Linked DNA regions of Homo sapiens: region 2 is linked to region 1. The links come from fine-mapping of genetic effects on gene expression. A gene starts in region 1. The other region holds a variant in brackets. All regions are shown on one strand. Distances are from middle to middle. Region 1 holds the start of MRGPRE (MAS related GPR family member E). Region 2 has its middle 29 kb from the start of MRGPRE.

Evidence for each region. PIP is the estimated chance that this variant, and not a neighbour inherited with it, causes the effect. A credible set is the group of variants that fine-mapping cannot tell apart.
Region 2: its variant is the best candidate, but not a certain one, in a credible set for the expression of MRGPRE in spleen (GTEx, PIP 0.84).

What each region holds. Positions count from the first base shown.
Region 1 is chr11:3,224,872-3,240,197 of GRCh38, reverse strand. MRGPRE (MAS related GPR family member E) reads left to right here and starts at 7,781. Exons shown (of 2, transcript NM_001039165.4): 1 at 7,781-8,057; 2 at 11,338-15,168. The coding sequence starts at 11,399. The coding sequence ends at 12,337.
Region 2 is chr11:3,253,727-3,269,052 of GRCh38, reverse strand. No RefSeq gene overlaps it. Among named protein-coding and RNA genes, the nearest start is that of MRGPRE, 29 kb to the right of the region's middle. RefSeq lists an enhancer at 13,774-14,415. The variant C/T (reference allele first, on the strand shown) is at 6,440.

The DNA of each region.
Region 1 (15,326 bases):
TGGCCAAATGTCATCAAGACCTCCTGAGGCTGTCATGCGTATGTCCTTAACCTTGGCAAAATAAACTTCTAAATTGATTGAGATTTGTTCCAGATACTTTTTGATTTATATATCTGACTGGGGAATGTTTCTCCCACCTAGTACTATAAAACTGAAGGTATGTAAATCTGCCCTTGGAGAAATGTTAATTGGACACGCTAAATGGGAACTGGTAAGATTGCCTGAGCCCACAGAATATAGAGTAGAAGCTGGAGTGCGAGCTGGAACAAAACCTCCACTTCATAGTCTTCCGTGGAGTGTTCATTGGGGCTTGTGGCAAAAGGCTGTGAGCACTTCCCAATGAACTGCTGGGACTTTGGACTCGAGAATTTCCACCTGAGGGGCATTTTCTGGCTTGCTGTGGGATGTTAAGTGAAGCTAACCCCATGCTAATGGAATCAATGGTGCCCAAAAGAGTTGTATGGTAAAACAAAAATGGTTTATATAGGATATGGCTGCCTGGGGAATGCAAGGAGGAGATACTCAGGAGCAGGGAGCCTGTTTTTCCCCTAGGAATGACTCAATGTGAGGAGCTGCTGGGTTCTACAGTGCCTGACGGCTCTCATCTGACTGACAAGAGCTGCTTAGCGTATGACAGCTCCAAGGCGAACACACGACATCTTGTTTGGAAGCTGCTGCTCTGGTTCAGGAAGACTCAAGGAAAGCTTTTTCTTTTCTTTTTTTTTTTTTTAATTTTTAATTTTTTTATTTTTATTTATTTTTTATTTTTTTTTGAGACGGAGTCTTGCTCTGTCGCCCAGGCTGGAGTGCAGTGGCACAATCTCGGCTCACGGCAACCTCCGCCTCCCAGGTTCAAGCGATTCTTCTGCCTCAGCCTCCCGAGTAGCTGGGATGACAGGCACACACCCACATGCCCGGCTGATTTTTGTATTTTCGGTAGAGACGGAGTTTCACCATATTGGCCAGGCTGGTCTCAAACTCCTAATCTCATGATCCACCCACCTCAGTCTCCCAAAGTGCTGGGATTACAGGCGTGAGCCACCGCGCTCGGCCGGAAAGCTTCTTCTTTTGAGTTATTTATAGTTTAGAGCAATCGGGTAAAGTAAGTTTTTATGAGTAAGTGTACCTTTCTCTCTATCTGAATTCTTCAAAATTCAGACACTATTAGCGAATATTCTGATTTTATGGCATTTAGTTGTTTGCATAGGTTTAGTAAGAATGTTTTCTTTTGAAATGGGACACAATTGGAGACCCTGGTTATTTTACCAAGGCTTTGACTGGAATAATATATTTTTAGGTAAAGTTCCAGCAAAGTCAACTTGAAAGGGGCCGGTATGGCCAATTGGTTCTTGCTGCACTTTATAATCAGGGAAGTATAATAAGCCTAAAACTTGTTTTGCACACAGATTGGTCTTACTACAATTTCTCTTTAGTAGAAAAGGAAGGCTAGAGAAAGGGAAATTTTTTCAAAGGAAAACTATACTACACCCATTACTAGATTCCAGCCCTGACTTTTGTTTGTTAGTGTGGATTGAATCATGAATTATTTCTTGGCTATAATAATCCTCTAAAGATGAGCCAGGTTATCATTTTCTTCGTGATGCTTTTAGTCAGTGCCCTAATGGAATAGATTCCTTTTTCTCTTCTGACACACACATTCTCTTTTGATTGTCAAATTATTAATGTTGTTTATCTCTCTTTGTTTTACTTCCGAGGAAACCAGAATATGGTATTCTGAAAAATAGAGGTGCAACTCTCCCTCATTGGCATCTCACTGGGCCCGAGCTGTTTTTCACTGCAAATACCTGCTGCTAAAATTATACCAGCACTCTTCCTCTAGGCCCACGACTGTCACAAATGAGGCAGGCATGTGAGATTGTAAGGGCCAATTTAGGGAGACAGAATTCATTCAGATCCTCCAAATCAAGGTTGGGCAGAGATGCCTGAATCAGTGGCAAAAAAAGGGACTTTGCCTCCTGGGTTATTATGTGGCCTGTTTTCATCCATCTCAACCATAAAGAATTTACTGTTTTCCATAGAATTCAAAGAAAATTACTGAGAATATATAAAGACACCTCATGACAAAGCCTCTTGGGTATAATACTCCCAGTTATGAGATTTATACAATTAGATATATCTGCATAAATTTATATATATACATATGTATGTATTTGTGTGTGTGTGTGTATACATATTTATACATATACAAACAGTTTGGTGGAATTTTAAGGGTTGATGAGTGCCCATCCACCTCCATTCCCTTCTGGCCTAGAATGTTTAAATTGGCTGTGAGTCTTTTGACTCTAAGCCCCTTGGCCATAGGGGTCCCACTGAGGGTCACAATGGACCCAGGACAGGCAGCCGAAACACCCAGTAACGCTATGGGACAAAATAAAAGTTTGGTGGCCATTGATGTTGCCTCTGGCAAGTCTTGGCCAGAGGAGGAGAATATAAACCAAAAATAAAATTCCAAGTTCCCCAACCAACTGAATGGAAGGGCATTCATTCTAAAGTAAACTTGAAACATTAGTTCAGGCCATGATGAGAATGGGTGGTCAGACATGCCTCATACCTTCCTGCCTTTGGAATTCAGGCACAGCTGACCAGCATTCACATTAAAACAAGAACTTAAGGCTGACAAAACAGACCCTTCGTAGCCATAAGATACCGCTGTAATGTCAGATAGCAGGCCCTGATAGAAATCAAAGTATTTTACCCCTTACCTTAAGCCATGTATCCCTTGCTATTGATTCCAGGTCTTTTACATAATAACTCTTTTAACCAGTCAGAAAATCTTTGAATCCACCTATGATGTGGAAGCCCCTGTTGGAGTTGTCCCGCCTTTCCAGATTGAACCAATGTACATCTTACATGTATTGATTGATGTCTTCTGTCCCTCTAAAATGTGTAAAACTAAGCTGCACCCCAAACACCTGGGCACATGTTCTCAGGATCCCCTGGGGCTGTCACAGGCCATTGGTTATTCATAATTGATTCAGAATGAATCTCTTCAAATATTTTAGAGTTTGACTCTTTTTCTCAATAATTGGCAGATCAGCGCAATGGCTAAATGATGAGGGAGAACTCTAGGAAGCTTTTGAAAAGGCTCAAGAGGAAGACAGAAGTCTTCTTTGGAAACAATACAGTAGAGGAAAAGGGAGGGGGCTAGTATTTTGCAAGACGAAAAAAATCAAAAGTTTGCAGGACAAAAAATTCTCTTCTCTCACTGTATGCCCCCCACCCTGCTCTAAAAAAAATTATGTTTTCCAAGACTGACCAAAAAAGAAGCTCATAAACTGGCATCTTTTAAACCACTCTATCTTGCCATCCTTACGCACAAAAATGCAGAGACATAGTCTTCATCTATACAAAGGTTCTGGAAGAAAAAGCAGGAAAAAGTCCAAACAATTCAACTGATATAAATTCCCTCACATTTAAAAAAAGCAAAACCCCAGTTACACCTTATAAATCCTTCATCATTCTAAGATAAACTCAAATGGCTTACAATTCTTCCTTATATTATATGAAGTGTTTTGAGCCTATGTTCATGACAATATTGGTCTGTAGTTTTTTGTTCTTAGAATGTCTTTGTCCAGTTTGTATATCAGATTATTAGATTAATGCTGGCCTCCTAAAATGAATTGGCATGTTCCTTACTCCTGTTTTCTAAAAGAGTTTTGCAGGGTTGGGATTATTTATTTTTTGTCTATCTTATAGATTTGCCAGTGAAGCAATTTGGAACTAGAGACTTATTTGAGAGAAAGTGTTAAATTACGAGCTCATTGTTTTCATATTGAGAACTATTCATGTTTTCATTGTGTCTTTCAAAGAATTTGACCATTTCATCCAAATTGTCAAGCTTATTGGCATACAGTTTATTTTTACATTCCACCTTTACCATTTAAGTATCTGGGACCGGTAGTGGTATCCCCTCTTTCGTTACCAATATATAGGTGATTTGCAGTTTCTCTTTTTTCTTTTCTTTTTTTTTTTTTTTCTTTTCTTGAGACAGGGTCTTGCTCTGTCACCCAGGCTGGAGTGCAGTGGCCTGATCTTGGCTCACTGCAGCCTCAACCTCCCAGGCTCAAGCCATTCTCCCACCTCAGCCTCCCTCTCTTGAGTAGCTGGGACCACAGACATGCACCACCATACCTAGACAATTTTGTTTTTTTTGTTTGTTTGTTTGTTTGTTTTGTATTTTTTGTAGAGTCAGGATTGTGCTATGTCACCCAGGCTAGTATCCTAGTATCGAACTCCTGAGCTCAAGCACTTTTTGTTTTCTTAATCAGTCCATCCAAGGTTATTCCATTTTATTAATCATCTTAAATAAAACACCTTTGATGTCATTGCTTTTCTCTACAGCTTGTCCATTTGCTGTTGTCTTGACTGCCAGTCTTACCTGTGTTGTTTTCAACCTTCTCCTGATTTGGCATTTAACCTGCTGAGCCCCTTTGCCTCTTCTGGCCTGTGTTGCAGTCCGGAAGCCACCTCCAGACAGAAAGTTTGGGTGAGCATAGGGCGTGCCCATCAGCTTCCATTTTCTTGGGACCACAGTCCTGCTCGGCCTGTTGTCTAAATTCACAAACCGTGTTTTGGTTTTTTAGATTTTTATAATGGGAGGGTGATTCCAGCCCCTATTGCCCCTTTAGAACCAGAAGTAGAAGTCGTCATCCTCTTTCTTGAAGCTCCAATCCTGTCACATGCCACAGTGCTCCTGGTCCCCATGAATGTTATGATGATCAAGTCCAATAGGCAAATGGTCCCCCAAGGCACTGACTTCAACATAACCCATCACAAGTGCTTGTTTGATTGATGATGAGCCACAGAGTGGCATGGATCACCAGTGTCACTGACCAGAAACTCATCACGACAGTCAAGGCCAAGGACATGACCAAACCAAGCCTAAATTACCATGTTTCCCCTAGGACCTTTCAGTACCAGCAGGGACACAGTCAGTAGGCAGAAGCTACCTATAATTTTGAAGGGATGATCTTAAAGAATTGTTCACTAGAGACTGAAAAACCAAACACGTACAAAGGGAACACTAAGGTATTAGAGAAGAAACAACTGCAAAAAGAGCCGCCACCCCGGGCACGGGGAACAAAGGAAGGAAGTTAAAACTATTGAAATTTAGGACCAGTGGGGACGACTAGAGTGTAATTCAGGCCCCTGAGGGGGCTCCCAGCCAGTTAGTGGCCAGTGTCTCCAACAGGAAACAATGGGTCTGGTTTTTCAAGTGCTGGGAAAACTGCAGAAGTCCACTGCTGCTACAAGGTGGAGAAAGTTGCTGCGGGCCAGGCATGGTGGCTCACAGCTATAATCCCAGCACCTTCGGAGGCCAAGGCAGGAGGATTGCTTGAGATCAGGAACTAGAGACAAGCCTAGGCAATGTATCGAGACCCTATCTCTATAAAGTTAAAAATTTAAAAATTAGCCAGACAAGCCTCTGGTAGCCTGGCACTTGGTGCATGCCTGAAGTCCCAGCTACTCAGGAAGCTGAGGAAAAAATGCTTCAGCTTGCAAGTTGGAGGCTGCAGTGAGCTGTGATCATGCCACTGCACCTCAGCCTGGCCAACAGAGTGGCATTCTGTCTCAAAAAGAGAGAGAGAGAGAGTTGCTGGGGCAACTCTGACAGGGAGTGAAAGTGAAGCTCGAAAACATAAAGGAAGATGGACTAATTGGAAAGAGTCAGACAATTGGAGGGGTAGGGGAACTGGAAGGAGTGGGACAATAGGAGGGGTGGGACAATTGGAAGAGTGGGACAGTTGGAAGGGTGGGACAACTAGAATGGTAGGACAATTAAAAAGGTAGAACAATTGGAAGGAGTGGGACAATTGGGAGGGTTGGACAATTGGAACGGTGAGACAATTGGAAGGGTGGGACAATTGAAAGAGTGGGACAATTAAAACTGTGGGGAAATTGGAAGGGTGGGACAATTGGAAGAGTGAGGCAATTGGAAGGCAGTACAATTGATAGGAGTGGGACAACTGGAAGGAGTGGGACAACTGGAAGGTGAGACCATTGGAAAGGTGGATCAATTGGAAGGTAAGACCATTGGAAAGGTGGGTCAATTGAAAGAGGGGGACAATTGCAAGGGAAGGGCAATTTAAAAAGTGGGACCATTGGAAAGAATGGGGCAATTGGAAGGAGGGGGACAACTAAAAGAGTGGGATAATTAAAAGGATGAGGCAATTGGAAGGCTGGGACAATTGGAAAGAGTGGGAAAATTGGAAGGGTGGGACAGTTGGAAGGCTAATGCAATTGGAAGGTGGGATAATTGGAGGGTGGGACAACTGGAAGGAGTGGGACAAATGGAAGAGTGGGACAATTGGAAGGAGTGGGACAAATGGAAGAGTGGGACAATTGGAAGGAGTGGGACAATTGGAAGAGTGGGACAATTGGAAGGAGTGGGACAAATGGAAGAGTGGGACAATTGGAAGGAGTGGGACAAATGGAAGAGTGGGACAATTGGAAGGAGTGGGACAATTGGAAGAGTGGGACAATTGGAAGGAGTGGGACAAATGGAAGAGTGGGACAAATGGAAGAGTGGGACAGTTGGAAGGAGTGGGACAATTGGAAGGGTCGGGCATTTGGAAGGGTGGGACAGCTTTAAGGTGTAAGACAAGTGGAAGGCATGGAACTTATGAAAGGGTGGGATGGACAATTGAAAGGAGTGGCACTATTGGAACTGTGGGACAACTGGAGGGAGTGTGGCACTTAGAAGGGTGAGATATTTGGAACGTGTGGGGCGATTGGGAGCACTTCCCCCACACCCCTGGGCCATCCTTGAGTGACCACCCACTGGTAGGGCCTCCCAGAGCGGTGGCAGAGCCCAGGCATGGTTTACAGAGCCTCGGGCACCTGGCAGCTCGGATCCTGGTTTAGGAAGGGAGGATTTGAAGCTGAGACACAACTCAGCAAGCGGCACTGCTGCCTGTCAGATACCAGCCCCGCATGGACGTCAGACACCAGCGCGACACATTCATCAGACACCAGCATTGCACAGACGCCAGACGACCTGTGTGCGGCCCCTCCGTTTTGGGGATGGAGGATGCCGGTGCCCTGGGGGATGCCTGCTGATGTAGTGACAGGTCAAAGGCCACGTGCGGGAAACTTGCTCTCACTTGGTCCGCAAGAGGAGAGGTCAGGCGGACTGCGCAGAGTGGGAAACGCTCCGGAGCAAATCCGTGCTGTTTCTGCACTCTTCTCTACCTCGGAGATTTTTCTAAAGACAAAGATGAGAAAAGAGTTGCTAGGGCCTGGACTCGGGGAGGAACAGAGGCCAAAAAATGACCTTGTTTTCCTTCTCTTGGCACGTCAATTGCGATCTCCCTTAAGGCAGGGCACTGGAAGGAAAGGCACGGTCTGAAACGGGACTTGAAATCACTGAGTTCACGAGGTCTCCCGGAGCCTGACGCTGCTGTATGTGTTTGATTCTCCTCGGCCGGGGACCGCGCGGCAGCTTCTTGACACCGGCCATCTACTCTGTGCCTGCGAACGAGGCAGGAGGGACGGCCTCACGCACATCCCCGCTCCTCCCCGCGGTCCCACACTGCCTGGAGAGCTGGGGCCGGCAGCCTGTGCTCTGCGGAGAGAAAAACACATTTTTGCTGCAAGGACAAGTTCCGCCGGTAGCCCGGCTCTCAGCCGGCCCCTCCGAGGCACAGATGGAAAGAAGTGGTCCCTAAAGGGCCCTACAGGGCTTGGTGTCTCTGAGCCAGGAGTGCCAGTGAAGTCACAGCTTGGCTGGGCTCCACCCAGAGATCTCGTGGTTTCCTCTGCCTGCCAGGCCTGCCTGGAAGGCTGCAGGGAGGTTCAGGGTTTCTCTTGCTGTCCACACCTGGGCGAGAGCTGAGCGGAAGAGAAGGGGTCCTCAGAGAGACACCTTCCTGACCGGCCCCATTCCAGCTGGATGCCATGTGACTCGGAGGAGCTGGTGGACACTGAACAGGAGCCGCCCAGAGGCTCTGGGGACTGGAGCCCTCGGCCGCGGCCAGGATAGATCCAAGGCCCAGGGTCAGAGCAGGCAGGGCTCGGCCAGTCCTCTGCCCCAAACGGTGAGTAGCGCAGGTGGCTGGATCAGGGTGGGTCTCTGGGGCCGGCCCAGGCGCTCGGCATTTTCTGGGCTCTTTTGCTGGCCAGATGGTGGCAGGGGTGGGGCGTGGGCAACAGCAGATGCTATCAACAGGGAGCTCTCCAGGCTGCAGCCTCCGCCCTCTGACGGGCCGCACCACCTGGTCCGCAGCCAGCCCTGGGCTGAGTCTGGAAGAGGACGATAGCTTGGGTGATGGCTCCCCAACCCCCCACCCCCGGTGGCTCTGTCTCCTGTCTGCCTTGCTTCCTCCATGATCTAGAGTGTTCCCTGCAGGTGCAGACTCTCAAGGGGAGTCATGGGGGCAGCCGGGGATAGGCCCTCTCCTCCCTGCCACACCTGGGTGCTCAGCCTCAGGGCTTCTCAGTATTGGCTGTCTGGGCGGGACACAGAGCCACTCCTGGACCACCCAGGGATGGGGAATGCTGTGCCTCCCTCCTCTTCTGTTCCATCGTCCTTCCCCGCCTCCTCCCCTCCTTCTCCTCCCCCTCCTCCTCCTCCCTCCTGTTCTCTTCCATCGTCCTCCCCCGCCTCCTCCCCTCCTTCTCCTCCCTCTCCTCTTCCTCCTGCTCACCAAGGATGCAACAAACTCCTCTACTCCCCACAGTCCTGTAACCCAACTGTGGCGACCCTTCCTACAGAGCTCTGCCTCCCTCCCGAGCCCCCAGTGGGGCACATGGTCCCACAGGGAGACCTCCTCCAGGGTCACAGCAGAGAGGGGGCAGCAGCAGGGTCTGGCTGAGCTCCGTGGCTCTAACCCCTTGTCCCCCTGTTCTCCTCCCTGTTTCCTTCTCTGTCCCCCATCTCTTCATGCCTCTCCCCTTCCTGCACTCTCCCCTCTCCCTCTATGTCCATCGCTTCCCTGCCATGCTCTCTCCCTGGGGCCCACCCATGAGGCCCGTGTCCTCCTCAGCCATGCAGGAGGTGAGATAGGAGAGGGACCATGGCCCTTGGTGGGCCACAGGCTGGAGAAACCCCACCTGTTGCTTTGGGGCTGGAGCTTGCTGGTAGATCCCGGAGATAGCTCCGTCCATGGGTGGACGGGACTTGTGCCTGGGAGGGGGTCCACCATCAACAGACTTAAGACCTCCCAAAACTCATCTCTGCCTCCCTCTGGGCCTGAGGGTTGGTGACCCCCCCAAGCTATCCTGAGTAGGAGAGCATCTGTCCCCCTCCCCACATCTCCCCACCTGCCATGGCAGTGATGCCCCGTCTGCCCCACTCAGGGTGTCCTCCTGATGATGCTGGCCCAGGTGGGGCTCCCTCCACCACCACCTCACCTCCCACCCATGGTCTGCCTTCCCGGGGCCTTGGGTGCTAGGATGGAGCACAGGGACAGGAGGAAGAGCCCTATATCTCCAACCAGGCTTGACTCCACCCGCAGGAGATTCAGACTGGACCACGGGCAGGACTCAGCTTCCTGAGGTGCTGGGACTGGGGCCTCCTCTCCACTGAGCCCCCCACCCCCATGCCCACCCCTGAGGCGGGGACAACCTCAGGCTGTCATTTCACCCCAGTCAAACAAAAGACCACAGAGCTGAGGGTGTAAGCCGAGGGAGATGACCAGCACCTCACGGGGTGGCTGGCACCTCTGTGCTCAGCGATAGCCCCGCCCCGGGCCACCTCTCCCCAGCATCCCAGCACCGCAGCGTCCCCCTGCATGGTCTCGGGTGCTCCTATCACTGGAGGGAGACAGCAGGGGTTCTGAGCACAACCTTGAGGTGGGAAGAAGCCGCTAAGACCAGCTATGGGGGTTTCTGCTTGTACCCCCACCCTCCTCACCCCAAACCCCAGCCCTCCCAGGACACAGGAGGACCAGCCACCACCAAGGTGGGAGGGGCACCTGGTGTCGGCCCCTGACCCCAGCCAGTCTCTGGGGAGAGGCAAGGCCCCATCCCCTCTCCCCCAACCCCAAGAGGAGAAGCTGGGGTCACCAAGCACTCAGAGACACATGACGGGCCAGGTAACCACAGGGGCAGCATGGGGCCGGGTATCTGCAGGCATGTCTCCGGCTCTGAGCACCTGGCAGTCTCCTAGAGTCTATTACTTGCTGTATTTCTGGCAAAGCTGTGATGAAGACTCCGATTCCAGCCTAGGTCCCCTGGGATTTGTGCTGCCTCCCAGGACTCAGTACCCCTCCCGCAGGACCTGTCCCCGTGAGCCGACTGCCTTGGGAGGGGATGGAGGGAGGCTGGAGACGCCATGGAAGCTCAGGGCCCCTCCCAGCCCCATCATCAGACAGCTCCCTCTTCTCCCCATGGGGAAAGGGCGGGCAACGTTGAGCAGGATGCAGCCTCCTCATGTGCCCCCTACCCTGCAGAGGGCTGGAGTCCTGCTGTAGGACAGCAGGGACATGGCCAGGGGAAAGGGAGTTTTCCTGTGGCCCTGATGTGGCTGCATGGTGTGACCAAGCTGGAGGGCTGGGGACTGGGAGCCCACTGGCAAACAACCCCTCATGGATGTCAAGGAAAGGCCTCAAAGAGTTGAGGGCTGCTTTAAGATGATGACGAAAAGCCCCACAGCCACTGTAAGCTGTCCCTCTGTGGTCACACCACTCATTAGACATGGGCGGTGCCTCCTGCTCTGCCTATGACTTTAAAATAAGTCATATTTTATTCTTTGGGAGTCCAAGGCAGGCGGATCACGAGGTCAGGAGTTCGAGACCAGCCTGGCCAATATGGTGAAACCCTGTCTCTACTAAAAATGCAATAAATTAGCTGGGCATGGTGATGCACGCCTGTAATCCCAGCTCTTCGGGAGGCTGAGACAGGAGAATCACTTGAACCCGGGAGGCAGAGGTTGCAGTGAGCCGAGATGGTGCCATTGCACTCTAGCCTGGGGCAACAGAGCCAGACTCCATCTCCAAAAAAAAAAAAAAAAAAAAAAAAAAAAAGCCCATTCTGAGGATCAAGGCACCACTAGCAACAGGGAGCCCCATGGGTCTCAGACCCTCTCCCCACATCTCCTGGTCCCTGCCCCCACCTGGCCTACAGGGACCAGCCCCACGGAAGGCTCTTGAGGCCAGGTAACCATGGGGAGGGGAGGAATGGGGACACCTTCCTCCTGAGTGTCTTAGGGAAGAGAAGCTTAGGTCAGGTGGCTGAGGGTGGAAATGAGAGAGGGGTCTTCTCCTGGAGGGTCTCACCATTCCCTTGGTCACCCACCCAACTCTCATCTCCCCTGATGTGGGGAGGAGCAGGGGGCATGGATTCCTGAGCCCCAGACTCAACTGTTGTGGTTTACAGGGGCATCAGGAGAGAGAGCGAGCAGAACACACTCCTGCAGCATCCCCTGGCCCCCCGCCCCATGATGGAGCCCAGAGAAGCTGGACAGCACGTGGGGGCCGCCAACGGCGCCCAGGAGGATGTGGCCTTCAACCTCATCATCCTGTCCCTCACCGAGGGGCTCGGCCTCGGTGGGCTGCTGGGGAATGGGGCAGTCCTCTGGCTGCTCAGCTCCAATGTCTACAGAAACCCCTTCGCCATCTACCTCCTGGACGTGGCCTGCGCGGATCTCATCTTCCTTGGCTGCCACATGGTGGCCATCGTCCCCGACTTGCTGCAAGGCCGGCTGGACTTCCCGGGCTTCGTGCAGACCAGCCTGGCAACGCTGCGCTTCTTCTGCTACATCGTGGGCCTGAGTCTCCTGGCGGCCGTCAGCGTGGAGCAGTGCCTGGCCGCCCTCTTCCCAGCCTGGTACTCGTGCCGCCGCCCACGCCACCTGACCACCTGTGTGTGCGCCCTCACCTGGGCCCTCTGCCTGCTGCTGCACCTGCTGCTCAGCGGCGCCTGCACCCAGTTCTTCGGGGAGCCCAGCCGCCACTTGTGCCGGACGCTGTGGCTGGTGGCAGCGGTGCTGCTGGCTCTGCTGTGTTGCACCATGTGTGGGGCCAGCCTTATGCTGCTGCTGCGGGTGGAGCGAGGCCCCCAGCGGCCCCCACCCCGGGGCTTCCCTGGGCTCATCCTCCTCACCGTCCTCCTCTTCCTCTTCTGCGGCCTGCCCTTCGGCATCTACTGGCTGTCCCGGAACCTGCTCTGGTACATCCCCCACTACTTCTACCACTTCAGCTTCCTCATGGCCGCCGTGCACTGCGCGGCCAAGCCCGTCGTCTACTTCTGCCTGGGCAGTGCCCAGGGCCGCAGGCTGCCCCTCCGGCTGGTCCTCCAGCGAGCGCTGGGAGACGAGGCTGAGCTGGGGGCCGTCAGGGAGACCTCCCGCCGGGGCCTGGTGGACATAGCAGCCTGAGCCCTGGGGCCCCCGACCCCAGCTGCAGCCCCCGTGAGGCAAGAGGGTGACTTGGGGAAGGTGGTGGGGTCAGAGGCTGGGGCCAGCCGGACCTGGAGGAGGCCTTGGTGGGTGACCCGGTCATGTGCTGTCAAAGTTGTGACCCTTGGTCTGGAGCATGAGGCTCCCCTGGGAGGCAGCTGGAAAGGCAAGGTCTCTACATGCCCAGGCAGGCGGGCCGGGTCTCTGGGGAGAAGGCCGAGGAACGTGCATTTTTGGGAAACCTCCCCAACGGTTCACGCACTGGCACTCGAGAGCTGCTGCTGCTACCCATTCCCTGCTCAGCTGCAGTGAGGAGACCCCGGAAAGCAAGGAAGCAAGGCCAGACGCCAGGTGAGGGGCAGGTCCAGGCCTTTCCGCAGGCCACCTCCCCTCCCACTCCAGCTTCCTCAATGCTGCAGGTGCACCCACAGATAACACAACCATCCCCTCAGCTCGCCTTGTGCCCGCTGTGGAAGCTAAATTGACCCTAAAATGGAAGACTGCCCAAAACTTGACCCCCTCCCCGTCCTTGATCATCAGCCAGTTGCTCAAGGCCGTGCACCTCAGACCGGGACGATGCAACCCTCACTCGGAGCTTCAGAAAAGCCGGCCCCATGGGTGTCCCTGGATATTAGGAGGGTGCACCCTGGGTGGGTGGAGAGGCTTCTTACAGCCCCACCCAGCAGCCTGCAGCCCTGTCTCCCCACAGGACCCAGGTCTTCAGCAACCAGAAAGCTTCACACCGGCCCCATCCAAGGCAGTTCACCCGCCTCTGTCCTGAGCAAGTCCCGCTCCAGAGGATCCCTCTGAGGAAGGAACCCAGGCTTCACCCCTCAACAGGTTTCCGAGCTTCCGCTGAGTGCCAGGCCTGGCTGCCATCCAGGAGCATGTGCCAGGGGTGCTAGAGTGGGGGCTTTGGAGCCCACAGCCTGGGCTGAGCCCCGCTAGCCACCCCACTGTGCTGCCAAGGCCATCTCTGAACATCCCTACGCCTCTGTTTGCTGGTCTGTAAAATATGAGAACCCAGTGCTTTGAGGCCTGTCCAGCCTCTCGTGAGCCCAAGAGAAATGTCTGTCGATTCTACTGCCACCAACGCCACACATCCAAGTCCACAGTGCAATTCTTAGCCACAGACCAAGGCATCTGAGAGTGTTTTCTTTGATTTCTGACTCCGGCCTCCATGGCTGGTGATGGAAGGACATTCCCTCTGGACCATGACTGAACCAGCCCCTCTTGAGTCTGGGTGTGAGTCGCAGATCCCTGGTCAGCACCCTGGAATCCGGCTGCACCGGGCCCCTCCCAGCCCACACAGTGCGTTCACCTCAGGCTCCCGCACGTGCCCAGCAGGCCTGGGTCCAGGTATCCCTTGAGACTGGGAGCCCCAGGGGCTGGACCCACCTCTCCTAGAGCACCTCCAGCCCCCACTTGGGGACTTACCTCCTCCCAAATTATCTCCAGCCCAGGATCTGCACAGGGCCCTCTCTCCCCACCTCCAGGACGTGATTAGCAACTTCAGTTCCTCAGCTGGAGAAACAAGAACAGAAAGGGAAGTGGCCTGTCCACAAATTCCACTTTCAGCCCCAGGACATAAACTTCCCCCAGAACAAGGAAGAACCAGGAGGAAAAGCACAGATTCATCTCACGGACATGACCTCACCGTGGACGTGTTCCCGGGGAATCCTCGTAATAATGTAGGAAGGTGCTCCCACTCTGCAGATGAGCCACCAAGGCTCCGAGGGGCTATGTGGCCGTTCAGGACCACAGGAAAGCTGCAAAGCCAGAAGGTGACTCCCAGCACCACCCTCCCACGCCACACGCTCCGCCTCACTGGACCAGGGCTGGCTCAGGTGTCCTCAGCCCCACACTGGCTCCCCCAACCCTGGCCCCATCCCCACGCAGACCCCTTTGCTGCATAAGGGTTCAGAGAGATTGCGGACCCTTAGAATGCTCACTTCTTCCCAGAGAGCCTGCTCTCAGCATCCAGGGGATTGGAGTGGCTCTAGATTCCTCCTTATTAGCCCCTTCTCGAGGAGTCCGGGAAATGTGGCCTCATCTGAGGTCTCCATGGAAACTGGGCCCAGCTCGTCCCCACTCTAGTAGCTGCTGTGGCAGCAGGTATATGGCCTGATGGCCCAGGATGCTGGTGGGGTATCCCCTTGGCCCCAGATGTGCCAGCTTGGCCTCCAGTTCTGTGGTCCTTGAGCCCTCAGGACATTAGGACCATGTGGGCTGGCCTCCAAACTGGAGGCTGAGCTTCCGTCCAGGCTCCCACCTGCCCCTGCCCAGCCTGCGCCTCCTCTGACCTCCCCCGCTGCACCTCCTCTTCTGCCCCCAGAGCCACAAGGCCCCACCAGGGACCCCTGGCTGCCCTAGACCCCACCCTGCAGGACCCTGGGGCCTCACTGCTCAAAGGCCACCTCCACCTGGGTCGCAGGCAAAGCTCCTCGGTCAGTGCCCAGCCCACCCCATCCACCCGCAACCCCGGGCCCCTGCGGGGCTGCCGCGGTCAGCACAGAATTCCCAAGAACAGGCGGCTACTCCTGGGGGCAGCCAACATTCCAGGGAGCCTGTGTAACCCGCTCCGTCCTCAGGGCCCAGGGAGGCTGTGGGTGAGGACTGTGTGTGTGAGGACAGGAGCGGAGACAGGCCTGCGGCCAGCTTCCCTATCCCCTCCCCAGCGCCCGGGTACGAGTCTGTAAATCAGCCTGCGCTGCATGGCGTCTTCACGGGGAGAGGCAGGCTCACTCCTCAGCTAGTTCATTAGCTCACACGCTGGAAAAATAAAACCAAACATCACACTTAAAACATGACCACGGCTTTAGTTTTGTTGTTCTCATGAAAGCGCGCAATTCTTCCACAGCCCTGATGCTTTTCCTCTGAAACACACCCCATCCCCCCTGACGGTGCCCGCATGATGCCCAGCTGGAGAGAGGCTGCTCCTGGCAGCTCCCAAGGTCATGGGGTTTCC
Region 2 (15,326 bases), 29 kb before region 1:
TTGACTAGTGTACCTGAAACTGATGGGAAGAATGGAACCAAGTTGGAAAACACACTTCAGGATATTATCCAGGAGAACTTCCCCACCCTAGCAAGATAGGCCAACATTCAAATTCAGGAAATACAGAGAACACCACAGATACTCCTTGAGAAGAACAACTCCAAGACACATAATTGTCAGATTCACCAAGCTTGAAATAAAGGAAAAATGTTAAGAGCAGCCAGAGAGAAAGGCTGGGTTACCCACAAAGGGAAGCCCATCAGACTAACAGCAGATCTCTCGGCAGAAACCCTACAAGCCAGAAGAGAGTGGGGGCCAATATTCAACATTCTTAAAGAAAACAATTTTCAACCCAGAATTTCATATCCAGCCAAACTAAGCTTCATAAGCGAAGGAGAAATAAAATCCTTTACAGACAAGCAAATGCTGAGAGATTTTGTCACCACCAGGCCTGCCTTACAAGAGCTCCTGAAGGAAGCACTAAATATGGAAAGAAAAAACTAGTACCAGCCACTGCAAAAACATACCAAATTGTAAAGACCATCAACACTATGAAGAAACTGCATCAACTAACGGGCAAAATAACCAGCTAGCATCATCACGATAGGAAGAAATTCACACAAAATAATATTAACCTTAAATGTAAATGGTCTCAATGCCCCAGTTGAAAGACACAGCCTGGCAAATTGGACAGAGTCAAGACCCATCAGTGTGCTGTATTCAGGAGACTGATCTCATATGCAAAGACACACGTAGGCTCAAAATAAAGGAATGAAGGAATATTTACCAAGCAAATAGAAAGCAAAAAAAAGCAGGGGTTGCAATCCTAGTCTCTGATAAAACAGACTTTAAACCAACAAAGATCAAAAAAGACAAAGAAGGGCATTACATAATGGTAAATGGATCAATGCAACAAGAAGAGCTAACTATACTAAATATATATGCACCCAATACAGGAGCACCCAGATTCATAAAGCAAGTTCTTAGAGACCTACAAAGAGACTTGGACTCCTACACAATAGTAGTGGGAGATTTTAACACTCCACTGTCAATATTAGACAGTTCAACAAGACAGAAAATTAACAAGGATATTCAGGACTTGAACTCAGCTCTGGACCAAGCAGACCTAATGGACATCTACAGAACTCTCCACCCCAAATCAACAGAGTATACATTCTTCTCAGAACCACATTGCACTTATTCTAAAATTGACCACATAATTGGAAGTAAAACACTCCTCAGCACATGCAAAAGAACGGAAATCATAACAGTCTTTCAGACCACAGTGCAATGAAATTAGAACTTGGGATTAAGAAACTCACTCAAAACCACACAATTACATGGAAACTGAACAACCTGCTCCCGAATGACTACTGGGTAAATAACGAAATTAAGGCAGAAATAAATAAGTTATTTGAAACCAATGAGAACAAAGACACAACATACCAGAATCTCTGGGACACAGCTAAAGCAGTTCTTAGAGGGAAATTTATAGCACTAAATGCCCACAGCAGAAAGGGGGAAAGATCTAAAATCGACATCCTAACATCACAATTAAAAGAACTAGAGAAGCAAGAGCAAACAAATTCAAAAGCTAGCAGAAGACAAGAAATAACTAAGATCAGAGAAGAACTGAAGGAGATAGAGACACGAAAAACCTTTCAAAAAATCAATGAATCCAGGAGCCAGTTTTTTGAAAAGATTAACAAAATAGACTGCTAGCCAGACTAATAAAGAGGAAAAGAGAGAAGAATCAAATAGACACAATAAAAAATGATAAAGAGGATATCACCACTGATCCCACAGAAATACAAACTACCATCAGAGAATACTATAAAAACCTCTATGCAGATAAACTAGAAAATCTAGAAGAAATGGATGAATTCCTGGACACAAACACCCTCCCAAGACTAAACCAGGAAGAAGTCGAATCCCTGAATAGACCAATAACAAGTTCTGAAATTGAGGCAGTAATTAATAGCCTACCAACCAACAAAAGCCCAGGACCAGATGGATTCACAGCCAAATTCTACCAGAGGCACAAAGAGGAGCTGGTACCATTCCCTCTGAAACCATTCCAAACAATAGAAAAAGAGGAACTTGTCCCTAACTCATTTTATGAGGCCAGCATCATCCTGGTAACAAAGCCTGGCAGAGACACAACAAAAAAAGAGAAAATTTTAGGCCAATATCCCTGATGAACATCGATGCAAAAATCCTCAATAAAATACTGGTAAACCAAATCCAGCAGCACATCAAAAAGTTCATCCACCACGATCAAGTCGGCTTCATCCCTGGGATGCAAGGCTGGTTCAACATATGCAAATCAATAAACATAATCCATCACATAAACAGAACCAATGGAAAAAAATGCATAATTATTTCAATAGATGCAGAAAAGGCCTTTGATAAAATTCAACACCCCTTCATGCTAAAAATTCTCAATAAACTAGGTATTGATGGAATATCTCAAAATAATGAGAGCTATTTATGACAAACCCACAGCCAATATCACACTGAATGGGAAAAAGCTGGAAGCATTCCCTTTGAAAACTGGCACAAGACAAGGATGCCCTCTCTCACCACTCCTATTCAACATAGTATTGGAAGTTCTGGCCAGGGCAATCAGGCAAGAGAAAGAAATAAAGCGTATTCAAATAGAAAGAGAGGAAGTCAAATTGTCTCTGTTTGCAGATAACATGGTTGTATATTTAGAAAACCCCATCATCTCAGCCCAAAATCTCCTTAAGCTGATAAGCAACTTCAGCAAAATCACAGGATACAAAATCAATGTGCAAAAATCACAAGCATTCCTATACACCAATAATAGAAAAACAGAGAGCCAAATCATCAGTGAACTCCCATTCACAATTGCTATGAAGAGAATAAAATACCTAGGAATACAACTTATAAGGGATGTGAAGGACCTCTTCAAGAACTACAAACCACTGTTCAAGGAAATAAGAGAGGACACAAACAAATGGAAGAACATTCCATGCTCATGGATAGGAAGAATCAATATCTTGAAAATGGCCATACTACACAAAGTAATTTATAGATTCACTGCTATCCCCATACCATTGACTTCCTTCACAGAATTAGAAAAAACTAATTAAATCTCATATCTAATTAATCCCATAATTAATGGGATTGACCCAGCAATCCCATTAAATTTAATATGGAATCAAAAAAGAGCCCGTATAGCCAAGACAATCCTAAGCAAAAAGAACAAAGCTGGAGGCATCACGCAACCTGACTTCAAACTATACTACAAGGCTACAGTAACCAAAACAGCATGGTACTGGAACCAAAATTGATATATAGACCAATGGAACAGAACAGAGGCCTCAGAAATAACACCACACATCTACAACCATCTGATCTTTGACAAACCTGACAAAAACAAGCAATGGGGAAAGGATTTCCTATTTAATAAATGGTGTTGGGAAAACTGGCTAGCCATATGCAGAAAACTGAAACTGGATCCCTTCCTTACACCTTATACCAAAATTAACTCAAGATGGATTAAAGACTTAAATGTAAGACCTAAAACCATAAAAACCGTAGAAGAAAACCTAGGCAATACCATTCAGGACATAGGCACGGGCAAAGGCTTCATGACTAAAACACCAAAACACCAAAAGCAATGGCAACAAAAGCCAAAATTGAGAAATGTCATCTAATTAAACTAAAGAGCTTCTGCACAGCAAAAGAAACTACCATCAGAGTAAGCAGGCAACCTACAGAATGGGAGAAAGTTTTTGTAATCTCTCCATCTGACAAAGGGCTAATATCCAGAATCTACAAGGAATTTAAACAAATTTACAAGAAAAAAACAACCCCATCGAAAAGTGTTTGAAGGATATGAGCAGAAATTTCTCAAAAGAAGACATTTATGGCCAGGAGCAGTGGCTCACGCCTATAATCCCAGCACTTTGGGAGGCCGAGGCCAAGGTGGGCAGATCATGAGGTCAGGAGATCAAGACCATCCTGGCTAACATGGTGAAACCCCATCTCTAGTATTAATATAAAAAATTAGCTGGATGTGGTGGCACATGCCTGTAGTCCCAGCTACTCGGGAGGCTGAGGCAGGAGAATCTCTTGAACCCAGGAGGTGGAGGTTGAATTGAGCTCAGATCCCACCACTGCACTCCAGCCTGGGCGACAGAGCAGGACTCTGTCTAAATAAAAAAAATAAAAAAAAAAAAGAAAAGAACACATTTATGCAGCCAACAAACATGAAAAAAAAGCTCATCATCACAGGTCATTAGAGCAGTGCAAATCAAAGCCACAATGAGGTACCATCTCACGCCAGTTAGAATGGCGATCATTAAAAAGTCAGGAAACGACAGATGCTGGAGAGGATGTGGAGATAGAGGAATGCTTTTACACTGTTGGTAGGAGTGCAAATTAGTTTAACCATTGTGGAAGACAGTGTGCTTATTCCTCAAGGATCTAGAATCAGAAACACCATTTGATCCAGCAATCCCATTACTGGGTATATACCCAAAGAATTATAAATCACTGTACTATAAAGACACATACACACATATGTTTATTGTAGCACTATTCACAATAGCAAAGACTTGGGACCAACCAAAATACCCATCAATGATAGACTGGATAAAGAAAATGTGGCACATCTACACCATGGAATACTATGCAGCCATAAAAAAGGATGAGTTCATGTCCTTTGCAGGGACATGGATGAAGCTGGAAACCATCACTCTCAGCAAACTAACACAGGAACAGAAGACTAAACACATGTTCTCACTCATAAGTGGGAGTCGAACAATGAGAACACATGGACACAGGGAGGGAAACATCACATGCTGGGCCCTGTCAGGGGGTGGGGGGCTAGGGGAGGGATAGCATTAGGAGAAATACCTAATGTAGATGATGGGTTGATGGGTGCAGCAAACTACCATGGCGCATGTATACCCATGTAACAAACTTGCACATTCTCCACATGTAGCCCAGAACTTAAAGTATAATAATAATAATTTTAAAAAGAGGAAATTAGGGCAGAGACAGGCACAGAGGGCCCCCTGATAGTGTCCTCTACCTTGAATCGCCTCTTCAGATGCAGTCATGTTCTGAGGGCCTGAGGGTCGAGGCTGCAATGGCAGAATTTGGAGGGGACCGTCAGCCCCTCTCACAGCCCTCCTCCTTTTCTGACTTTTACAATAGCTTTCTGTGCTTATCTGCTTGTACACTTTGGGGTTTGGGGTGAAATCATGTTTGGGAAAAGCTTTGCTTCATCACAAAGGTCTGGAAACCCTGAGATGGACTGAGGCTCTGCCTCTCCATCAGCTTGGGCTTGGAGCTTCCCTTTGCAGACCCCATGTGGACAGGAGCTGGTGGCTCCAGGACCCAGTGGCTCCAGGACCCAGTCTACAGCCACGGTCTATGGAGGCGGCTCTTCAGTGGGGCTGAGGCCCCCAGGGTGTGTCCCTCCGTGAAGTGTCCAGGCATCAGCAACCCCCTGCCCTCCCAGCCAGCCAGAGCAAAAAGCTTCTTGGTTTCCCCTTAAGCCAGAGAAGAAGGCTGTTTCCACTCAGCAGTACTGTGGCTCTTCATGGCTCTTCCAAAACCATGTCCTGTCTCCTGAAGCCCAAGTCAGGAAGAGCAGGGGTTTAAGAAGGCCTGACTCACTCTGCAACCAAGCTTGTCCTGCAGTTTGCTGGGTGCTGGAGGCCTACGTGGGCTCTGCTTCTGGGATGTCCTCCCAAGCCACAGTGGGAACAGGACCTGGCTGTGGGAGCTGGGATCCATGGAGGACACGTCCTGCCTGTCTAGAAGCTGAATCTCATGTTGTGATGTCCTATTCTGGCCCACAGAAAAACAGGCTGACTCAAATAAGGATATTGAAACAGTCTCCCAAATCTTCCCACTTCAATAGCTTAAGTTGGGCTGGTTGGGGCTGAATTGGCCAGTGGTTTAGGCAGAGCACATAACAGAACTTTCATGACTGTTATCTCATTTTACTGAGTGACCATAAGAAAGGGGAGATGAAACATGTACGAATCTCTTGTAACGTTTGTAATTTACCCCTCTCCTGAAGGACACGGCTCCTTTTCTCAGAAACGTATTATATTATCCTACAGAGCAGAGGAAGACATTTTCTCAGCAACAAAGAGAACTGGGGCAGGAGTGAATCTGAAGAAGACGGGAAAAGCAGTATCAGGATTCAGTTCTTAAGACTTCAGGAATAACTGCAGAGTTAAACTGAACACGACTACCCGGGGCTGTTTGATGCACTTTGCCTTGGACTCTGGGGCAACTTCCCTCCTGCTCCCTCTGTCTTCACATGACTAATGGAGAAGGGAAGGAGGTGGAGAGGCTGCAGGGCACAGTGGGGAAAAAGCTTCCTGCTATCACGAAGCACAGACGATAACAACAGCTAACTCCACGGGACAGCCACCTTGGCATTTTCAGA[C/T]ATGGTAGCGTTCTCCCCCAGGGCCCTGTGGCAGATGGGTGGCTAATTCCTCAGGACATACACACTGAAGAAACACAGAATCTGCCTCAAAGCCCGGACTCCCAGCTCTTCAGGAGTAAGATCTCTACCCTCCTCGCTGTGCAGTTTCCACAAAACCATCGGCAGTGAGGAGACTTCAAAATCACCCTTGTAGAAAGAAATTAATTAATTTAAGATAAATTAAAATAAAAAAACAAAATCACCCTCATGTCAATTCCAGCACTATAGCAGGAAGCTCTCAGAGTCTTATTGAGAAATTTCTTTCTAACTTGTAAGAAACATCCTTATCCATCCAAACCCAAAGAATGGACTCAGGGACACAGAGAACAGAAGAAGCGAGACTTTAATGGCAGTCTTGCAAGATTGGGTGTCTGGCATGAGGCACACCCAGAAGGGCTTCAACAAGAAATTTACTCCCTAGTGCACAAGTCCCTCCCCCAGTTCCTCATTGGCTGAGTACTACGAGGTTACAATCTTCCTGGACGTCGAATATTGGTAGTTGGATTAAGTTTTCGAGTATGTTCATTAGGGTCTTTCTGCTGCATTTTATTGCATCCCATAATGCATTGTGACTGTCTCAGGACTCTTCGAACATTTGACGTATGGCCCTAGATGGCTGTGCTTTGCTGATAAGAAAGGATAAAATTATCTATGTTGCAAGCTAGCCTAAACTAAATTCTTCGGTGGGGTGGGGAGGGGGTATTTAAGGGGGCCCTGACCGATAGGCACCTGGCTGCCAAGTGAAAGGAGAAAGCAGGATGGGGGCAGGGGTGGCTCAGTACATTCTGCTTCTTTATCTCTTTATTTCCACATAGCCTGCTTAAACCTATACTAAGACACTTAAAATTAAAAATGGACCACCACATATAGGTTATTTTTTACATAACTGACACCCGGTTTTGAGTATCTTATATTATAATCTGTTTTGCTTGCATTCTAGTAAGTCATTTCCCCAGTAACACGATTGCAGACTCCTTAAAGGGAGAGACATGCCTTATACACAAAACCTGACACAGACAAGGAATTGGTCAATCATTCCAATAGTATTTCTTAATAGCATCATTTTCTTATTTAGTTTGTCTCACAGTTTCTTCTTCATACTTTGTGAAAGAGTGGCTAATCAAATTTCTCTCATAGACTTTATTTATTTATTTATTTATTTATTTATTTTTGAGATGGAGTTTCACTCTTATCACCCAGGCTGGAGTGCAATCGTGCGATCTTGGCTCACGGCAACCTGTATCTCCAGGGCTCAAGCAATTCTCCTGCCTTAGCCTCCCAAGTAGCTGGGATGAGAGGTGCCTGCCACCACGCCCAGCTAAGTTTTGTATTTTTAGTAGAGACGGGATTTCGGCATGTTGGCCCAGCTAGTCTTGAACTCCTGACCTCAGGGGATCCACCTGCCTTGGCCTCCCATAGAGCTGGGATTATAGGCGTGAACCTCTGTGCCCGGCCTCTCTCACAGACTTTAAAAACACATTTGTGTGAAGAATAACATTAGGAGACCATTGTGTAAGCAGGCCTGTGAACTAGGTATCTGCTGTTTAGGAACACTGAAGAAGGCAGTCTAGGGAGAAATGGGTGCCCGTGCATCAGAAGGGAAAAGGGGGCTGGAGAGAAGTTTAGAGGTGGAGACAAAATGGCTTTGTGGCACAAAGGGCAAGGAAAAAAGCGAATTAGGGATGACTCCTGGGTTTATGGTTGAGCTGGTGGTGCATAAGGGATTGGATTTTGTCATGATGAGGTCACTTCTTCCAAGAGCGTCACTGAGTTCAGTTTCTGGGGAATGGAAGGCCAGAGTGGAAATGTCATGATAAAACAAATTGCAAGCCAATTACCCTCCTCTCCCACAGCCAAGCGAATATCTACATTTAACAGGCTTTTTAAAACTTCATCTATGTAGATTCTGAGTAACTGGGAAAAGGAATCTCTTCTGAGGTCCTGATTGTTCTTACAACCTTAACCTGTAATCGCATCTACGCAGCCCACTTTCACTAGCTTATAAAGCAGTTGAATATTCCAGTTGCTTTGAGTCAAAACCCAAAGCAAGATTAGACTTCATCGATACTTCAGGCACGATGGCAACAGGTATTCATCATATTTAAGCTTCCCTTTCTTGTTCCACAGAACTTAAAAAGCTAATAATTTACTTCTGCAGTCTCTCCTACTGCAAGGACACCATTCCAACCAAGCAAAGATTATGGCAGGTCAGAACGACGAGCACGTAGGTAAGAGTCAAATAATTTTCATTTAAATTAAGCCAAACTTTGTAATTTGCTTTTTGTGCCTTACTTTTATATTTTTATTTTTTGCACTAAACAATATTCTTCAAAAATGATGCCAAAAAACCCTGGTACTGTTGTTATTATTATACTTTACTTTGTCTATTTTTGGGCACTCTTTCAGGAATGGAAAGTAGATCTGAAACTATTTTTGGCCTGAACCATGTCTTGTTAAGATGCAGATCCTGATTCAGTGGGTCTGGAGTGAGGCCTGAGGTTTGCGTTTCAGATGAGCTCACAGATGCCACCCTTGCTGCTGGTCCTCGGGCAACACTTTGGGTAACAACCTCCAGGGGTGGCTGGGGGGCCGGGAAACCCTTCAGAGCTGCCCCACTGAGGCAAGGCTAGTTTTGTGCCCCTACAACCTGCATCAAGTGGTAACTGGATGGAGGCTGCCCCTGGTGAGGCAGCTCCTCGATTCTGTACACCACCAAATTGGGCATTTCCAGTTAATTAAATCCAAATCTATTTTGAGTGCAGTCCGGGCACAGTGGCTCATGCCTGTAATTCCAGCATTTTGGGAGGCTGAGGTGAGCAGACTGCCTGAGCTCACGAGTTCGAGACCAGCCTGGCCAACATAGCAAAACACCCTCTCTACTAAAAAAATACAAAAAAGTTAGCCAGGCATGGTGGTGCACACCTGTAGTCCCAGTTACTTGGGAGGCTGAGGCAGGAGAATTGCTTGAACCCAGGAGGCAGAGGCTGCAGTCAGCCGAGATCGCATCACGCACTCCAGCCTGGGTGACAGAGTGAGATACTGTCTCAAAAAAAGAAAAACAAGAAAAAGAAAAAAGAGTGCAGTTGTGTGGGGGAAGGAGAATGACACTTGGAGCCAGAAGACCTGGGTTTGAATCTTATCTCTGCCACTTAAGGCAGCAGCACCACGTGTTCAACTTAAATTTCTAATATTAAATCCACAGCATATATCACCTCAATCATATAGTTTCCAAAATCATCAAGTGACATATTATGCTTGTAAAGATTTTGCCAAGAATTCTTAGTGGGTTCTCATGACCTTAATTGTAATCAAATCCAAAACCCATACTATATTTTGTGTAGTCCTATTTTTTGTAACAAATAGAGCTATTACACAAATGCAAAAGTGTTGTGTATGTATGTATTATGTGTAAATAGTAGCAAGATGATAGATAATGGATTGGTAGATGATAGATAATAGATATAGATAGAGAATACATAGATAATAGATAAAATAAATAGTTATAGACAGGTAGATGATGGATAAATAGACAATGGATTATATGGATGATAGATATAAAGATAATAAATATGGGTAGATAATAAATAGAAATAATATTATAGAAGAGAGATTTGGAAAGCTAATAGCTATAGACAGATAATAGATCGATGATAGATAAAGGTAAATATATGATCATTAGCTAATAAGAAATAATTAATTCCCTTATTGCCTTATACACTTTTGCCTATCTGGGCCGTGAGTGTGGCCTGCAGCCATGTACCTGTGCCTAGCCCATGTTTCTCATCGTCCGAGCTTAGGGGGCAGCTGGTGAGCTGAGGTTGTCATTCCCCCTGCAGGTGAGAAGGGTCTCCATTCTGCAGCTCACTCTCCCCGCCTCTCCATCACCCTCTCCTTTTTCTGGCTGTGGAAGGGACAGGAAGGGCTGAGAGGTTGACCACATAAATGAGGTTTGATTGGAACTGTTATGCTTGGGTTTCCTGGAAAAAGACTCTGAGGAAGAGGCTATGGGGCAGGCTCTGGGGAACCCCTCCTGGGGAGGAAGACAGTACCTGCAAGTGGTCCTGACAGCTCCCATGGGGGCTCAGGACTGAGCAGGCACTTCAGAGCAACCCCACTGAGGCAAAGGTGTGGGGCTTGTGCCCCCAGACCCAGTGGTACCTGGGCAGGGCTCCCCTGCAGGGCCACCCCAGGCACTGCACAGAGGCTCCCTGTGGGCCTCAGCCACCCACACTCCCACGAGCTGGACACAGGGTATCTGGTTCCTAATGGGCACCACCTTGCCTGGCACAGGAGGGGACAACATCTCAAGGCATTGATGGGCATCACACCGATGCTACCATGAAAGCCACGGCTCCTCAGAGCCCCACACACAAGACAAGGGCCACAGCTCCTCGGCACTGTCACCCAGGACTGCACAGTGTGGGTTGGGACTCACAGAGGTTTCTCTTGAGTGGGCACTGCCAGTCTTTAGGCACCGTTGAGATCTTGCTCTTGATTTAGCTCTTACGAGATGCAAGCCAGGCAGAGGTGTCTGTAGGGAGTTGGCGTGACTGGTGTGATTGGCAAGGTCCATGTGACTGGTGAGGTCGGTGTGCATCCTAGGAGAGAACCAGAGGTGGGCATCCCTCATGCTCTACCCAGAGCCATGCACTGCTATGCCAAGATGGCGTCCTACAGCCCAGCACAGAGCCACAGGTAGGATGCAAGTAGGACTCAGGTAGGATGCAGGTGGGATGCAGGTGGGACTCAGGTGGGACTCAGTTAGGACTCAGATGGGATGCAGGTGGGACTCAGGTGGGACTCAGGTAGGATGCAGGTAGGATGCAGGTAGGATGTAGGTGGGATGCAGGTAGGATGCAGATAGGATGCAGGTGGGATGCAGGTGGGACTCAGGTAGGATGCAGGTAGGATGTAGGTGGGATGCAGGTAGGATATAGGTGGGATGCAGGTAGGATATAGGTGGGATGCAGGTAGGATATAGGTGGGATGCAGGTAGGCTATAGGTGGGATGCAGGTAGGATATAGGTGGGATGCAGGTAGGCTATAGGTGGGATGCAGGTAGGATGTAGGTGGGATGCAGGTAGGATGCAGGTAGGATGTAGGCGGGATGCAGGTAGGATGCAGGTGGGATGCAGGTGGGACTCAGGCAGGATGATAAAGGTGGGACTCAGGTGGGATGCAGGTAGACAGAGTGCAGGTGTGTGCACTCAGCTATGTCCATAGCACACCCTGGACCTTAGCACCATGCCTGGAATGCCAGAATACGATGGGTCCCAGAGGGAGGGTAGCATTCAAATGAAGACTACGAATGTCACATGTGCTTAGCCTGTGTGCCTGGAAAATCCCCTAGTGTCCTGCACCAGCTGGCCCGGGAGGGAAGAACAGGCAGCTCTGCAGGCCGCGCTCTGGGGACCGAGGTACCCGTGAATGAATCCACGTGGATATCAGAGAGACTGAGCCTTCAGCCCAAAGCCCAGCTCCTTCACTGGCCTGTTGGGCAGCTTTGTGCCCTTTCCTCAATCTCTCTGAGCCTTAGTTCTGTCCTTATAAGCAATGTGTCGGTGCAATAATAATTCCTGCCTTGATGGTCCTGGAATGACTGAATAAGATCTAGTTCCTCGAGTCACCCGATTAGGTTTCCTTCCCTTCCTTTTCCTTCCTAATCTCAGAAAGAAAGGGATGGGAAAAGCAAAAGGAAGGAAAATGCTGGCAAAGCAAACGTAGGTGTGTGGCACCTGGCACCCTCGCAGCGAGCGTGGCTATGGTCTGTAGCAGCAAAGAGCCCCACAGCCACGCCCAGCTCCGGGAGAGGGGCCAGACTGGGACCTGGGCTCTGAGCCCCCGTGGCTAGCGCGGCACCTGCACTCCTTGATATGTTCAGGACACCTCAGCATGGAGGGGGGCCGCACTGTGCCCCCCACCACCGCCATCCTGCCAGCCCAGCAGACTCTAGGGACTGGGCCTGACCTTGCCAGCAGCGCCGGAAACCCAGAGGCAGCCTCCTCCTCCCCAGCACGATGCCTATGCACGAGGGCCTGGGTCCAGGATGCAGACGGGGCCACTGCTGCACTCTGCAGCGGTGCGGACCGGGAGCAGCTGCCTAGTGGCCCCTGCAGGGGGTCGGTCTTAAGCCAACTGGTCCCTCTTCCTCTTGTTCAACTTCCTGCCAGGAAGCTTGGAGGGCAGCTGTTATTCACAACTAAACATCTTAAAAAGGAATGACTTGGTTCTTAGTCCTACCCCAAATGGGTCAGGGTTTTCTTTCCTCCTTTGAAATGGCTTTGGCGTTACAAGGGCCTTTCTTATCTGATTGTTGCATTAATATGATCCTTGAAAATGGACCGAAGGAGAATGAGGATAAACGTTTTGTACCAAAAAAGCACTAATTTCAGTTGAGATAGGATTTTAAGTTTTAGAGGAGAGAGGAGTGGAAAACAGATAATATAAAAAACGAAAATGTGAATACAGATTTAATCCCAGTGAGGCTAGAACGTGCAGGGCTTGGCCTCGAAAGAGGCAGAGCTGCGTGCTGACTCACCAGAGGGGCGTGCGGATCCTCCCAGGCCGCTGTTGAGGAGTGTTGTGGGTGGAGGCTCCACTCTGGGGGGACTGGCTTCCCGAGTTTGCCTTCCTTGCTGTCAGCATGGCCTCACGGCCCTGAAGAAGCAGGGCCCCCAGCCAACGTAAATGTTAACACCGTTGTAGGGATTATAGCCGCTGGTTTTCAATCGTGCTTTTTTTTTTTTTTTTTTGAGATGGAGTCTCGCTCTGTCGCCCAGACTGGAGTGCAGTGGCGCGATCTCGGCTCACTGCAAGCTCCGCCTCCCGGGTTCACGCCATTCTCCTGCCTCAGACTCCCAAGTAGCTGGGACTACAGGCGCCCGCCACTACGCCCGGCTAATTTTTTGTATTTGTAGTAGAGACGGGGTTTCACCGTGTTAGCCAAGGTGGTCTCGATCTCCTGACCGCGTGATCCGCCTGCCTCGGCCTCACAAAGTGCTGGGATGACAGGCGTGAGCCACTGCTCCCGGCTCAATCGTGCTTTTACAAACGCTCTGGATGCTTTTGAAGTTCATTTGAATTCTATCCCTCAGATAAATGGACTCTCCTGAGAAAGACAAACAGTTTCCTAGGCTCACTAGCAACAGCACAGTCCTTGGGTGGTGGTTGTTATTGTTGCTGTTTGTTTTAATATTTACCTAAGGTCACAGTCACAGCTTGTAATTTATTATATCTGAATTATTTAGAGTGATTATTAACTGTCGATCTCAGGGCTTAATGTTAATGAATGCTTCTGGGAAATGAACAGAATGATAAATTCAGGCCGATGCAGGCACCTCCCCACTTTTATGGGAAGAAGGGCCCCACACTTGTGCTCTGCACCCGGGAGGAGGCCTGACCCATCGACTCGCTTCCCGTCCTCGTGTCATTACAAATCTCTGCCTGGTTCCTCACACAATAACAGAGGAGATGGCTGAAACGCTGCCTTCTGGGCGTTTATAAACCACAGTCGCTGCCTATTTTCAGGCGGAAACGCTCCAGGAGCTGAGAGAGCTGTGCTGCCCTGTGAGGCTCCCATCCTCTTAGTCACAAGACTGCTGTCTCCCCTGGGGACCACACGCTGTGCAAATCCGCCATCCATCCATTACCGTCTACACGCTGTGCAAATCCACCATCCATCCGTTACAGCCCATTATCAGATGGAAGCCTTCCAGCCCCCTGGTGAGAAGCCAGAGAGCACTAATGTCCACATGGGGACAAAATTATTGACCATGAACTGAGGAAATGTATTTTTTTTTTGCTTCTTCCCACTTTGACCGGAATTACTAACTTGATCAACATGAAATTAAAATGAAACACTTGGGGAAGAATCTCTTCAAGTCCATTTTTTTATCACTGGGCTGAGACCATATTATGCAGTCACAATGCCAGGTTATTTCAACTTAGCCGAATTAATGAATCTAACTCAGTCCTGGGCTATATTACCCATCTGTTTTAGGATATTATAAGAGAAAGTATGTGACTTTTTCACCAAGTTACACATGAGAAAATTAAGACGAGATGTCCAAGTTCACAGTCATCTCATCATGATGGAACAGAGGGATAATCACAGGAAAATGTAGGTGCTTCCCCAGAACACTGAATTTCTATGTAATCAGGTAAAATTAGGCCATCTCGGTTGTCACCTTCCTGCACAGGATGTGGAAATAGCTGTCATTTATAAAGAAGGGGCCGTGCAGAGGGGCAGAAGCCACTGGAGAGCAGCTGTGGCTGGCGCTCACTTCTGGGCTCCTGGCGGGGTCTCAGCCGGGTGGTAAGTGCAGCAGTGGAAAATGGCCTGGACTCCTCGCCGGGGGCTCTAACCTCTTCCCTAGCTTGGCTATCATCCTGAGTCAACACCGCTGGGCCTCAGTTGCAGGTCCTGTTGGAATTTGGGATTGGGGACTGGAAAGGACTCAGGGGTTTATGCCGTTGCACTGGTATATAAGAAGTGTTGACAGCTAGAAGGAGGATCTAAGTTCAGGGACACCACACGGCTGTGTGGAGTCTCACCTCCTGGTGCCCTGAGCAGGGTCTCCCACTCCAGAGACTGTGGGAGTGCCATGCCTCCCAGAGATATGGCTGCTCTATCGTCTGGGTGCTCAGTCCCACCCTTGGAGACTCTCCGTGTGATGTTTCAAACCAGCCCAGCAGTGGTCCTGGGTCCTGAAGAGTCTTTGTCAATAATAGGCAACCTCTTTGGGATATTGGGCTGCCCAGACCAGGCAGTTTCTTTCCAGAGGCAAAATGGCTTTGTCCTCACTGAGCGTGGGAAGTCCAGCCCTGCCATTCTTTAACTCGGCGACCT